2 separate regions of the Homo sapiens genome follow, and region 2 is linked to region 1. The links come from fine-mapping of genetic effects on gene expression. A gene starts in region 1. The other region holds a variant in brackets. All regions are shown on one strand. Distances are between the middles of the regions.

What was found.
Region 2: its variant is fine-mapped to the expression of RXYLT1 in cerebellum (GTEx, PIP 0.98).

Annotation. Positions count from the first base shown.
Region 1 is chr12:63,777,404-63,781,803 of GRCh38, reverse strand. RXYLT1 (ribitol xylosyltransferase 1) reads right to left here and starts at 1,895. Exons shown (of 6, transcript NM_014254.3): 1 at 1,675-1,895; 2 at 630-785. The coding sequence starts at 1,843. RefSeq lists silencers at 1,527-1,826, 1,555-1,830, 1,847-2,076.
Region 2 is chr12:63,744,397-63,748,796 of GRCh38, reverse strand. No RefSeq gene overlaps it. Among named protein-coding and RNA genes, the nearest start is that of RXYLT1, 33 kb to the left of the region's middle. The variant T/C (reference allele first, on the strand shown) is at 1,872.

The sequences.
Region 1 (4,400 bases):
TTTCTAAGTCACTAAATTCTTTGTGACTCTTTAAACCCTCAGGGCCCCATTCTCTAATTGAGCATAATATATATCTTAGAACACTACACTCTCATGATATTCACAGCAAAAATGCTTCTGTGGTCAATCAAGTTTAATCAACTACATACTATAATATATTCCTTCGCTGATACAATGAACATTGTCATATTAAAGGCTCTTGAGAAAGGCCTGCAATGAAGAACCTTGTTTAACTTTGTACTCTTCAGTGTTTCCCAAATGTGTTTGGCCATCAAGGGCAGGGGCCACATCTTATACTTGTGTATCAAGTGTCCAAAAAATACACAGATTCATGAAAATTCAGTTGACATATGCATTGCAATCTAATGACACTATACAGCCTACTCAATGTATCAATAAATGAAGCTGTGCTCTGCTAAAGACCAACAGTGGAATATGTATGTGTGTACATTTACAAACAGATGTTGTCTAATTGGAAGGAGAAAGGAATTATTGACAAAAAGCGAAAAAATATATCATGATGCCTTAATTAACAAATTATGAAATAAATTATATTAAAATGAATTTCATATCAATAAAATACATTTTATAATGCTTTTTACATGTCTTCCTTCTACGTATTAACTTACCAATGGCAGCTTTGCCCCAGATTTGTACACTGAGATCTGTTTTTCCTTTCGTGGATTTATCTAATATTTGAAGGCTAGTTTTAAATCTGTGTTGTTGCTCATTTTTTTCATCTCCTTCCCAAGGATTCCATTCTTCACTTTCCAAAGTGGACTGTTCTGTTTTAAAAAGAGTAAGTGTTTACCAGTAAGGTATTATTGCAGTTGTAGGTAAATTCAAATCATTTAAATTAAGTGTTAGTTCTAATTTCATCCTAACTTTAATTTCTGAGAGGTACAGCAACTGAATTTAAACTGGTAATACACAATGAAAACAAAAAAGAAAATCAGCAATTTTTTTACTGAACTTTTTTTACTCTGAAAAGTCTTAGAAATAAAATGCTACCTTGAGACAGGAAAATTCTCTTCCCCAACACAAAACCTTTAAAAATAACAGGATAATATGTATCAAGTTACAAGCTTAACTTTTGCAATTATTTTTATCCATTGTATACAGGTAACCTATGCACAAAAAACTGACTTCAGAGTGTAGTGTTCACCAGTCTTAGATACTATCGTGCAAAATTCTGAATAAAGGGAAAGAGAAAGCCGAGTCTGATCTTAACACAAGTTAAAACACAGGACAGGGGACCAGAATTTGGAGGTAAAGTCTGCCTTATGGTCACTGCAGGATTAGAGAGGGCTTTGTTTCAACATGGAAACGGATGTCTTAAACCTTGCGGCGATTTTGAGGCCTTCCAGGAGCATTCCCGCAAATCTCTGGCATTTGAGACGACGTCTTGGATTTTAACACGTGTTTGAAAGGCGTGCGCGCCTGTCACCCCCTGGGATCGGGAGCGGGGACGGCGTGTGAGATCTGGGTAAGAATGAGGACCATTCTCCAATTCCGAGCCAAGGGCTGGCTCGAGAGGCTGTAGGGGGCAAAGCGCTTCTCAGGCCCTGCGGGTAATCCCGGACTTGAGAGCCGGGTGCGGGGACCCGGCCCCAGCCGCCCAGCAGCCCCAGCCAGGAGCGCAGAGCCGGAAGGAAGCCGCCGACCCAGTCCTACCTCGGCCGCGTCTCTCCCGCGCGGGGGCCGCCCCCTTCCTGAGGCCCCGCGGGGACCCGGCCGGCGCCTGGCGGCGGCGCCCGAAGAAGACGTGGTAGGCAGCGTAGAGGGAGAATAGGCAGTACAGGGCGATAAGAAACGAGCAGAGCCGCTTCCGCGTCAGCCGCATCCCACTCGGGCTTCCAGTCAGGCATCCACCGCCATGGAGCGGGCGGAAAGAGAATCCGCGACACCGGCGGCGTCCGAGGCAGGCCCAGCCCGTTTCCAGGCAGTCCCCAGCCAAGGCTCCTCCGCCCAGCGCCCGGTACAGCCCCGCCCCGGACACGCCCACCGCCCGCCTCCCGCCCAGGCCCCGCCCCCTCCAGTCGCGGCTCATCCACCCGGCCGAGGGCCTGCCCACCTTCGACACTGGAGGAGGGGGTACTGGAGCGGCCCCTACCCCACGCTGCTTCCAGACGCCGGGCTGAGTGGGAACCTCTCTGACCTCTGCCGTGTACTCATTGCACCTTTCAACCCTGGCCACTTTTCCCAAGTACATAAAGACTCGGGGGAAAAAGAACACCCGCGGTGGTCCATGAAGGCCATGTGAAGGCATGGACTGTGACGTTTTTTGCTCTGCATGGAATCCCTAGCGCCTAGGACAGTGCCTACTACGTTGATAGATGAGTGAATATAAACGTCCTTTAAAAAAATTAAGTGATGATGGTCGCTTAACATTGTGAATGTAATTAATACCACTCACTTGTATGCATAGAAATAGTTAAACTGTCGAATTCATGTTTTATATACCTTACTGCAATAAAAACATTTTTAAAGTTAAGTTTCATTATTATGTGAGTTGAACGCACATAGGCATGCAGTATTTTGTCAAATAGAGGCTGTAAATGTGAATGCTTCAGAAAACTTTGTATCCAGCCTTGGGAAGATGGGCTACAATGTTTTGTCAGTTGCTCTGGTACTACTGTTCAAATTACCCAGCAGTCTTGCGACGGTATGTCTGCTAATTAGGGTGACCAATGGTCCCAGTTTGCCCAGGACTGTAAGGATTCTCCAGTTGGAGGATTTTTAGTGCTAAAATTGAGAAAGTCCTAGGAAATCAGTAAAATTGGTCACTCTAGCACCGACCCTAAACTATTAGGTCAAACACTTTACCCAATCCCCCAAACAGTTCCCTGCCTCAAAAGACCTGTTTTAAACCATTTTTGCTCAGACTCCCCAAATCCTATAAATATCACCCCCAACCTTCTCCTTCTGAGACTGCCAAGCTTCTGTCAAAGTGTGGCCTCCCTTACTGTAGTAGATTTAATAAATTTAGCTTTCCTTGATTAACAGGCTATTCTGGTGTCTTAGGGAGATGGCAGTTGTTTTATGTATGCTGTATTGTTGTTTATCCTATTTTGTTTGTTTGTGGAAATGACAATTATTTAAGGATAGGAAGTAATTACCTTATAATTACCACAAAACACCCACTGTATCAATGTACATTCAGATGCTACTGACTAATGGTTTTACTATTGAGAAATGCATACAAGGTAAAACTAATATGCAGTTGATGTCATCTTGAATAGGGGAGAGGGCCATGAAAATGAAGGAGTTGTTTTACCTCAAACTGCAAATGACTGCATAATTTGATGATAAGCTTTTAAAAATGTATTTAGGTTACAAAGGAATCTTCTAATTGATCTAAGTCTGGCAGAGTTCATTTTCCTTTCTCTTGGTGTTTAATGGTTGAGCTACAGCTGGGAGCTACTTTCTGTATATGCTCTCATCTCTTCAGGTGGATGGAAAGAGAGGGAAAGAGATGTGGTGGGGAATGCAGCAGTGTGGAGGGGGAGACAAGGTTAAATATCCTCTGGGGGTTGAAGCTCCGCATATAGGGAACCAGACCTGAGAAGGAAAGATGTGGGAGGAAGAATAGAAATAAAGGAATATGAGATGAATTAAACTAAAGCAGGGCTAAAATCTTTACTTGGTGAAATTTTCTACTCTGTCTGCAAAGGGAAGAACTATTAATCAACAAGATATTGAGAAAATAGCCCTAATGTCCTAATGCCTTCTTCTAGTTGACTGTGAAATAGTACACGCTTATTCTTAGAAGTCCCCAGTACAAATTTCTTGTGATACCTGGTCAAAATTCTCTTCTTAGTTTATCAAGTTTCCAGTAATACTCAAGAAGTGTGTTAACTACTTTGAGAGATTTTTCACAGCTTGGCCAAGCTTCTGTGTCAAACCCTTTGCAAGATACTTCTAGCAGGGCTTGGCCATGTAAGTTATAAACTATAGCTATTTCAAATTTGTAAGAATCAGTCCTAAGAAGATACATTTTTCTTTTTCATGTGAGTACAATGCTCACAAAAATAAGTAATAAAACTCTACAGAAATATATTGGCATTGGGAAATAGTAAGCAAATTATAACGCCTTCTTTAAACAATCAATCAAACAACATACTAATAACCAACCAAACAGAAACTAGGATGAAGGTTAAAGACAGAACAACTCTGAGGTGAAATTGAAGCAGATGAGCAGAAACAGATTCTGTGCAAACATCACTTCCTCTGTAAATCTTTCCCTCTCCTATTTCCCCTTCCCCACACCCTCTAAACCCTATGCACAGTTTCATCATTGGTGTAACATTTCATCACCAATTTTGTTTATGTATTCCATATGATCCACCAGCCTTAACTAGTGTGATAGTTGTCTATGGACTCTGTTCTACTAAAAGCCC
Region 2 (4,400 bases), 33 kb after region 1:
GCTCTTGCTGGCCTGAGAGCACAAACAAGGCCACATAATTCTGATGGCTCTTATCAGCCCTTGCTCCACCCAGGTTTCTCACCCTGCAGTCCCTGCAGCCTATTACTTCCGATATCCCTGGGTAGTGGAGTGGGGAGGCATCTCAAATGTTCTCTTCAAGTCTGATCTGGTTTCCCACAATCTCTTATTGCCAAGGTACCTTAGTACCACTTCTTTTGCCAATGCCCTTCCAGAGAGTGATGGCATCAAGGCCATTCATTGTTGATCTTGAGTCCTCAGAGTATCCCAAACTGCACTGAGCCCATGGTACAGTGAGGATCAGGCATGATCTCCACCAGTTCTGCTCGACATTTGTTAACCCAACACCAAACTTGCTCTCCTTACTCTCAGATACTCATGAAGTCATTCACAAAACTAGTTCTTTCAGCATCTATCCCCCAACAAAGTCTCAAAAACAGCTCTTTCAGCTATTGGCAGTTGATTGCCATCTCATTTCCCTCCTCCGTCTGGCTATTACGCCACCCCGGAACTTTAATCTTCCTCCCTGACCCTCCCACCCAAAGCAAAAACCAAATCCTTGCCTAGCAACCCATGGAAACATAGAATGATTCAAAAAGAATTGATTTCTTAAAAAAAAAAATGAGTAGGCCAGACGTGGTGGCTCATGCCTGTAATCCCAGCACTTTGGGAGGCCGAGGCGGGTAGATCATGAGGTCAGGAGATTGAGACCCCGTCTCTACTAACAATACAAAAAATTAGCCAGATGTGGTGGCGGGTGCCTGTTGTCCCAGCTGCTTGGGAGGCTTAGGCAGGAGAATGGCATGAACCTGGGAGGCGGAGGTTGCAGTGAGCCGAGATCGCGCCACTGTGCTCCAGCCTGGGCGACAGAGTGAGACTCCATATTAAAAAAAAAAAAAAAAAGTAATGAGGTTCTATATGTAGTCAATGAGGTTCTTTATGTGGTCAATACCAATTTATAAAGAAATTATAGCTGTCCCTCTATATCCATGAGAGACTGGCTCTAGCACCACCTGCAGATAACAAAATCCACAGATGCTCAAGCCTCTTATATAAAGTGGTATAGTATTTGCAGATAACCCACACACATCCTCCTGTACACTTTAAATAATCTCTAGATTACTTATATAATGCGTACACATCTCCTCATTCATGTGGATTCAACATAGTCCTCAGTGTGTGGCAAATTCAAATTTTGCCTTTTGGAACTTTGTGAAGTTTTTTCCCCCTAAATATTTTTGATCCATGGTTGGTTGAATCTACTGATGGGGAACCTATGGATATGGAGAGCCAACTGTATTTCTATTAATGTTTCCAGTTATTTCTATGATATTTAAGAGAACAAAAAATATTTTTATCATCTTTAAGCCTATTATGAGCCCCTCATGTCACATGGTACACAGCAATCCTGTAATCAAATTCATCCCAGGCCACATTCATCATCAATGATTAACATGCTGCCCATGATGCTACTTCATTTCCTGCAGGCTGCCAGAAAGAGGTGGTACAAACAAGAGTTTCCTGACATAACTCCATGTGCATAGGAATGTAAATTTAAAGCTAATCACTGAGAAATAAAAATTTTGAAATTGTTCAATTTTTAAAAATTCACTCTGTTCCTAGCACCACCAGCCAAATAGTCCTACCTTAATCCTACCCTAATCCTGTTTTACAGCCTGGACTCAGCTAGACCCTGCTACTAAAACATTAAACCAAAGGATATTGAGGATTCCTTTCCGCTCTGTATCACACGGTTATATACTAAAGGCACATAGTATTGCGAGGGCGATAAATACAAACAAAATTAAACAGAACAAAAGACAACAGTACTGAAGGAGCACAGAAAAGAAGAA[T/C]GACATCAGGGAATGATTATTAGTCTTAGCTTTGGAACTGGAACTTGAAGAATGAGTAAGATTGGCTGGGTGGAGTTGAGATGATACGGTTTGGCTGTGTCCACACCTGAATCTCACCTTGAATTGTAATAATCCCCACGTGTCAAGGTTGGGGCCAGGTGGAGATAATTGAATCACGGGGGTGGTTTCCCCTATACTGTTCTCATGGTAGTGAATAAGTCTCGCGAGATCTGGTGGTTTTATAAACAGGAGTTCCTCCGCACACGCCCTTTTGCCTGCCGCCACGTGAGTCGTGCTTTTGCTCCTCCTTTGCCTTCTGCCATGATTGTGAGGCCTCCCCAGGCAGGTGAGACTGTGAGTCAATTAAACGTCTTTCCTTTATAAATTACTCAGTTTTGGGTATATCTTTTTTAGCAGTGTGAGAACAAACTAATACATGAGGTAAGGGCAACCCCCAGGAGAGAAAACCATAATAATGTTCTTTTGGAGAAGAACTCTCTCTCCTTTGTTTTTTGTGAGTCTTTCATAATTTTTCTTTTAGCAGTTTGTTTCCATCAATTACTTTAAATTTAATGCCATCTTCTCACGAACAAATTAGTATTACAAAGCAATTTATTGTCTGATCACTGAGCCAGTTATAACTAAATGCTACTGATTAACATGGATATTTGGTCCTTGCTTAATGTTATTTCAAAAATTAAATTTCCAACTTGTTGAACTGCCTATTCTCAGATCTTTTCATAGGAAATAATCTAGTGCCTTAAGCTGCTTGGACTATACAGGAGCCCATTAAAGTTGATTAAATTTTAATTTTTTTCTAATGAATCCTATTTATATTTATTCTCCCATCATACTGTTACTTATCAAATTAACTCTCTTCACTTGTCACTTTTTTTAATAGAAAAATGGAGCTTATTTTCTGTCCTTTTTAAAGCAAAACATCTAGATTTGTTTTCTGTAGCATGAGATTCATTCTAAGGTGAATTCCTTAGCCTATAAAGCAAGGTTTCTATTTCCTCCTCTTTTTTTTTTTTTTTTTTTTTTTTTTGAGACAGAGTCTTGCTCTGTCACCCTGGCTGGAGTGCAGTGGTGTGATCACGGCTCACTGCAGCCTTGACCTCCTGGGCTCTGGTGATCCTCTCACCTCGGCCTCCTGAATAGGTGGAACTACAGGCACGTGCCACAAAGCCCGGCTAATTTTTCTATTTTTTGTAGAGACAGGGTTTCTTCATGTTTCCTGGGCTGGTCTTGAAATCCTGGGCTCAAGTGATCAGTCAGTCTTGGCCTCCCAAAGTGCTAGGATTATAGGCATGAGCCACTATGCCCTGCCCATGGTTTCTACTTCTAAAACCACCAGAGAGACTTGTTAAAACATCATTTTAATCTACAAAACCAAGTTTTGGTTAGGACATATAGAACACTGAATGGAAAACTACATTAGGATTAACAAAACCTAGTCCTATATTAATTTTGCATCAGATTTGTATCATCCTGGATAAGCACATGGACCTCTGAATTGTGGTCTTTTCATTTCTATCATCATTCCTGTTATGTTTGTGGGAATGGTGGGAGGGTTAAAGCATTGTCAAAAGCCTTAGTTTATTCTTTGAATCTCTGTGGTGCTTTTGAAAACTATTGTTCAATCAACTTAATCTGGGATGAGGTAATATATACAGTAGTTCAATACTAGAAATCATTGCCTGGTGACCAGAGCCAGTGATTTTAGGTACATGAGTTTAAATATAATTTCAAATTTAAACTTTAATGTAACCAAGAAGGTATCTCTTTGTGAAATCTCCCCTACTATCCTAGAAATTTAATTTCTCCTTTCTAATTCTGTACCTTGTATAACTAATCTGGCACATATCTTGATATACTGTAATTTTTAGGGTCCACTATTGTACTGCACATTCCTTAAGGAAAAGGGCTGGACTTCATTTATTCTCAAGGGCAGCAGGGTGGAGAATGAGTAAGACACAGGCTCAAAAGCCAACCTGCTGGCTTTAAATCCAGGTTACACCACTGGCCGTCTCTGTGATCTTAATATCTCCCTCCCATAGTTTTCTCAGTTTTAAAATGAAGACATTAATAAAAGCATCTTGCTAGTTGGGATTAAAGAAATGAATATATGTCATTGGGGTCAATTCAAGTTTTATAGGCCTAAAGTTTAAACAATTTTGTAGAACTCCTTAAGAGAAAGAAAACAAAATTTAGTGTGGAAATAGATATATTTAAAGTGATGAAAGAACAAGTTACACACACAAAAAAAACACAGAATGTAGCAAGCTATCTTAAGAAAACTAAGAGCCTAATGTACCTCTATAATTTTTCCTTCTTTTTTGGCTATATGTTCTTTGATTGCATTTTCATACAAAAAGTTTACTATTGAGATAACACAAAGATTTTAATAGTTAGCATAGCTGATTGAAGTTTGTTTTTTATTAATCATTTGGAAACGTTTATCTCTGCTTTACAACTCATCAGTAGTGTCATACACATTTTTAGGATTATTGTCAAATTTGGGAAAGC